Regions from separate parts of the Homo sapiens genome. Here region 1 is linked to region 2. The links come from fine-mapping of genetic effects on gene expression. A gene starts in region 2. The other region holds a variant in brackets. All regions are shown on one strand. Distances are between the middles of the regions. Region 1 overlaps D2HGDH (D-2-hydroxyglutarate dehydrogenase). Region 2 holds the start of NEU4 (neuraminidase 4).

What was found. PIP is the estimated chance that this variant, and not a neighbour inherited with it, causes the effect.
Region 1: its variant is the best candidate, but not a certain one, in a credible set for the expression of NEU4 in left ventricle (GTEx, PIP 0.51).

The regions. Positions count from the first base shown.
Region 1 is chr2:241,750,173-241,753,067 of GRCh38, reverse strand. It overlaps D2HGDH (D-2-hydroxyglutarate dehydrogenase), which reads right to left. Exons shown (of 10, transcript NM_152783.5): 7 at 2,774-2,895; 8 at 1,680-1,822. Among named protein-coding and RNA genes, the nearest start is that of D2HGDH, 17 kb to the right of the region's middle. The variant G/C (reference allele first, on the strand shown) is at 1,462.
Region 2 is chr2:241,807,374-241,810,268 of GRCh38, reverse strand. It overlaps NEU4 (neuraminidase 4), which reads right to left and starts at 1,076. Exons shown (of 4, transcript NM_001167600.3): 1 at 995-1,076. LOC124905349 (a long non-coding RNA gene) reads left to right here. Exons shown (of 2, transcript XR_007088398.1): 2 at 901-1,954.

The sequences.
Region 1 (2,895 bases), 57 kb after region 2:
CTGTCCTGGTCATGAACCCGGCTCTGGGCATTAATGTTCAAGGCACAGGTCTAGGACTGGACCAGGCTGTGGAGGGGCTGGGGACTGATGTGCAGAGGCTGGGGGCGTTGGGGACAGTCCGCCCTGGGGGTGGCGTGGGGGATGATGTGCAGAGGCTGGGGGCATGGAGGACGGCCCGCCCTGGGGGTGGCATGGGGGCTGGTAGAGAGGTTGGGGGTGTTGGGGGCAGCCTTCCTTTGTGGGGGCATGGGGGCTGATGTGTGGAGGCTGGGGTGCCAGGGTCGCCCTCCTGGGGGTGGTGTGGGGGCTGCATGACTGACTGCCACTCCAGCAAAGCAGCCAGTGCGGGATGAGGGTCCCCACCCGCACCACCAAGGGCAGTTGGGCTCACGTTCCCGCCCCATCTCAAGCAGAAGCTGAGAGAATCCCCGGCGGCTGTCCTGCTCTTTCTGCTGGGAAAACAGACTGACTGGCTGGGCAGCTGCCTCAGCCCGGGCCCCTGGACTGGAAGCCACAGGAGCACATGCAGCCACAGCGATCACCCACACGGAACGCGAGGGAGGGTGAGCCTCTGTTCGTGTGGTCCCTGGGGCCTGGGGATTGCTTGTTACTGCGGCAGAATGTAAGGGAGCTGACTGTCACAGTCCACTTAGAAAAATGCAGGAATGGCAGGCAGAGACCTAGGAAGGACGCACACTTGATCATGCCTCAGTCAACAGAGATGGCACCACACAGCTGCCATTCGCCCAGAGGACGCCCCTGGGCTGGGCATCAGGACACACAAGTGAGCCCAGCCGACCGCACCCCAGCCCTTGGGAGCAGACACCGTTTTGCCCAGAAGCACTGGAATCATGACAGTCAGGCGGCAAAGGTGAGGGGGGAAGATGGCAAGGGCAACACCCAGGCTAACACGAGCCTGAAATCAACTAAGCGGGAGTAAAGTCCTGCGCCCACTGCTCAGGCCCTGGTGACGGTGACCAAGGGCGCCTCCCACTGCCCAGGCCCCGGTGAAGGTAACTGAGGGCTCCTCCCACCCAGGTCCCGGTAACAGTGACCAATGGCTCCCACTATCCAGGCCCCGGTGACGGTGACCGAGGGCTCCCCCTGCCCAGGCCCCGGTGACGGTGACCGAGGGCTCCCCCTGCCCAGGCCCCGGTGACGGTGACCGAGGGCTCCCCCTGCCCAGGCCTTGCCCCTCCTTCCTTTGGCCTCAAAAGGCCAAATCATCTGGTCACACAGTCAACGCCCCTTCCTCCTAGGGAAGGAAAACTGCCCATCCTAGGACTCCCGAGGTCCAGGCTAAGCCTCCACAGCCCCAGGGGCTCCTCCTGCCTCCACTCCTTCCACACGACTCTATGCGGAGCTGCCGCTGACTGGCCGCTTAACCACAGGCTGCAGGGGACCAGCAATGGGGCAGTCCCCTTGCTCATCCCACAGCATGGGGTTGGGGAGGGTCATGGT[G/C]GGGAGGAAGTACTTTTTAAATATTAATGAAAATGGCCTAGACACCAGGAATACATTTTCCATCCAAAGAGGCTACTCTCTCAAAGCCATGAAACCCAGTCACATTTCAGCCACATCCCACACTGTCTAGGCTGCACCAATGACCGTTCCAGGCATCCCAAGACAAGGCTGGACTGGACGGACAGAGAGCGGGGACCTGCAAGCAGGACACAGGGCACCTTGACTTTCCTCTGGTCGGTGGCCATGGTCCCATCGGTCACCAGGCCGGAGCCCAGCGCGTGCTCCAGGAAGTGGCCCAGCTTCTCAGCGTCATGGCCTGCGTTGGAGCCTGAAGTCTCGATGAGGACGTAAAACGGACTCTCTAGAAGTGAGCAAGGAAGGCAGAGTGAGCAGAGGCTCCGGCTGCCAGGGCAAGAATCAGGGCTGCTCGGGCAGAACAGCTGTAATAGCAACCACTGATCTTTCGTGGCCAAGAAGGACCCAGGCAGCCTGCGGAGCACACAGCTCTCTGGTTAAGCTGACTTTCAGAAGGTTTAAAAAGTCGTCTTTGGCCGGGCACAGTGGCTCACACCTGTAATCCCAGCACTTTGGGAGGCTGAGGTGGGTGGATCACCTGAGGTCACGAGTTCGAGACCAGCCTGGACAACACGGCAAAACCCTGTCTGTACTAAAAATACAAAAATTAGCTGAGTGTGGTGGCAGGTGCCCGTAATCCCAGCTACTCAGGAGGCTGAGGCAGGAGAATTGTTTGAACCCGGGAGGTGGAAGCTGCTGAGGCAGAAGAATCGTTTGAACCCGGGAGGTGGAGGCTGCTGAGGCAGGAGAATGGTTTGAATCCGGGAGGTGGAGGCTGCAGTGAGCCAAGATCGTGACATTGCACTCCAGCCTGGGCCACAGTGCGAAACTCCATCCCCCAACAACAAAAAATTATTGGCTTTTTTCCCAGCATAAAAGAAAAACGTGCTTACAGAAAGCAACATGGGAAAACAAAGAAAAGAAGAAATGGAAAGAAAGTCTCCCAGCTCACCAAAAATAGCCACTTAGTTCCTTCCCGTCCTTCCTGCAGAAGATCAGGAAATCTGTGTAACTACAAACCTTACACAGGACCAGGGCAGCCTGTTCTTTGTCCTAAATATGTTAAGAGCAGCTTTCTTACACATGAGCCCAACGGCCACTCCATGCTCCGCCCAGGGACCCCCCACCCGCCCGCCCGGGCACCCCCCGCCCACCCGGGGTCTCTGAGCCGTCCCATGTGTCCAGACGTGCAGAAGGAGCTGCAGGACCAGCTGCCCCCTGTGTGGGGGGTCAGTACCTTGCACCGGGCTGGCCAGGTGGAGATGGCGCCCGACCAGCTGCATGCACACAGCATCCATGAACTCGAATGCAGACAGGATCTCACCCAGCATCCCCTTGCAGGTGCTGAAGGTCTGCAGA
Region 2 (2,895 bases):
AGCTTCCCCCAAGTGGCTTTCACCCCACGGGGACAGAGCCCCAGAGGTGCCTGTGGGCCCAGTGTCCTGTGCACTCACAGCCCCAGGAGGGGCGGACCCAGTCCAGGCAACTTGGCCATCGTACACATCCTCCTGCTCACAGCCGAGAATCCTGGGGCAGGGGCAGGTGGGTGGGAAGGGACAACCTCCCCACCCCTCAGAAGCCCCACCCCAGCCCAACCAGAACTGGGTGGCCCATCTCCCTTCTCGTGTCCCCCAAGTCTGGGACTGGTGGAGTCTGACCAGGGCCATCCCCTAAGTACCCAGGCTTACAGGGAAACGGGACCTCCAAGCCCCACGTCACCTTGCAAAGTCCCCTCCTGGGCCACCCTGAGACACAGGCCGGGTCTGGAGCAGGGCTGTCTGGCCAGGGTGTGCCCGCAGAGCTGGGGTGGGGGGCAGGCCTCACTCCCTCTGCTCCAGGCTTTTCAAGCCCACTGTTTTCAATCTAGAGATTTCACAGAAAAACCCGTGTTTTCAGCTTCTCTTGAAAAGTCAGATCTGCCCTCAGGTGCCACCCACTTCCCCTGGGCATCTCTGCCTGGACAAGCCACCGTCTACCCAGGGTATATGACAGCCACGGGTCCCACCAACCCCCAACTGTCACCCCATGGCCCACGGCTGCTCAGAGGTCCCTGGGCCCATCTGGGGCTCTGTCCCCGTGGGGTGAAAGCCACCCGGGGGAAGCTTTCCTTAACCGTCTTCGTGAGCTCTGGCAGCCGAGGGGCCACGCTGACCCCAGCATCACACGGAAGGCTGGGACGTGCCCCCTCCCCCAAGAGCAGTTTCGGCTACTCTGTGTCCCCCTTTTATGGGCTGCACGACGTGGCAGCATTTTAACCGCCCCTTCTCAATGCACAGCCCGGACAGGCTGTTCTCAACACTCTCTACTGCAAACTACACACAGTTTTACGTCGCCAGAAAGACCCCAAATTTCTATTCAAAAAGACCGTACCAGTTTCAGTTCCCGCCAACCTCAAAGGCAGAGACAAAAGGACGGTGTGCCCCTCCTGTAACTTCATTTCTTCGGTGACTGTGAAGCTGAGGGCAGAGTCCACGCCTGGGGACAGGGCTGCCACCGCAGCGGCCACTGCGTCCAACCCTCGCTCCTCCTCCCAGAGACGACCTGCGTTCCGCTCAGGGACAGGGCTGCCAACGCAGCGGCCACCGCACCCAACGCTCGCTCCTCCTCCCAGAGACAACCTGAGCTCTGCTCAGAAGCGGCACCTCCTCATGCTGGACTCACTCGGGCCCACATGTGCCAAGGGGGCCTGGTTTTGGGGCCGGCGGGTTCTGCCTGATGCTCAGAGGGTAACTGGATGCTGAAAACTGTGAGTCTTTCTTCAACTCAGGGGAATGTTTCCAGGGCACGCCAGGCCTCACTCACGCAGGCCTCCGCGACAACTGTTCAGCACTGACTGAGGGTGAAGTGAAATCCTGAAAGCTGAGAGCCAGCGCCCTCACACGAGGGCTGGGACGTAACAAAAGCCCATCAAGAGTTTTGCCCAGGGCTTTCTTGGGCCTTGAAGCATGACGAGACCAGGACCCGTTTAGGATTAAACAAGTTTTACTGGGGGTCTGAAAAAACTCCCCAGGCCTCCACAAACAAGTGGAGAAGGAACTCCCCAAACCTCCATGATTTAGCAGAAGACAAGATAAGGGTAAACACCTGGGCCCATTTAGATCAAGTAAATTTACTGAGTCTTCAGAGGAAGATCTTCAGGACCAGACCTCAGTTAGAGATGAGAAGAATTGAATCACGTACGTCTTTAGACGAATGCACACTGACACGGAGACACAGAGCTTAGAAGGTGTGTAAGCTCTGGAAAAACTGTAATCTGGAGTTGGTCTGGCGATCATTTCCAGGCCTTCTCCCTGTAACCAGTTACAGAAATAAAATCCCTCTTCTTCCCCAGTTCATCTGCATCTCGCTATCGGGCCTCGGGAATGAGCAACCCGACCCTGGGTTTGGTCCGGGAACGTTTTGTTCTCTGCGTGAACTGCTTTCTCATCTGTGGTCTTTTCTGTCTTCTGGGACTCCTGTTGTTGGCACGTGGGCTCCTCCCGGGCCACTTTCCCTTTACCTGGCAGGATCCTCTCCTGTGCCTTTCCTGGGCTGAGGGGGGAGGGAGGGAGGGAGGGAGGGTGGCCTGCCGAGGTCCCTGGGCTAAGAGGGGAGAGTGGCCTGCAGAGGTCCCTGGGCTGAGGGGGGAGGGAAGGTGGCCTGCAGAGGTCCCTGGGCTGAGGGGGGAGGGAGGGTGGCCTGCGGAGGTCCCTGGGCTGAGGGGGGAGGGAGGGAGGGTGGCCTGCAGAGGTCCCTGGGCTGAGGGGGGAGGGAGGGAAGGTGGCCTGCAGAGGTCCCTGGGCTGAGGGGGGAGGGAGGGTGGCCTGCGGAGGTCCCTGGGCTGAGGGGGGAGGGAGGGTGGCCTGCGGAGGTCCCTGGGCTGAGGGGGGAGGGAAGGTGGCCTGCAGAGGTCCCTGGGCTGAGGGGGGAGGGAAGGTGGCCTGCAGAGGTCCCTGGGCTGAGGGGGGAGGGAGGGTGGCCTGCGGAGGTCCCTGGGCTGAGGGGGGAGGGAGGGAGGGTGGCCTGCAGAGGTCCCTGGGCTGAGGGGGGAGGGAGGGAAGGTGGCCTGCAGAGGTCCCTGGGCTGAGGGGGGAGGGAAGGTGGCCTGCGGAGGTCCCTGGGCTGAGGGGGGAGGGAGGGTGGCCTGCGGAGGTCCCTGGGTTGAGGGGGAGGGAAGGTGGCCTGCGGAGGTCCCTGGGCTGAGGGGGGAGGGAGGGTGGCCTGCGGAGGTCCCTGGGCTGAGGGGGGAGGGAAGGTGCTCTTCCCGGGTCCCTGGCGTGAGGGGGGAGGGA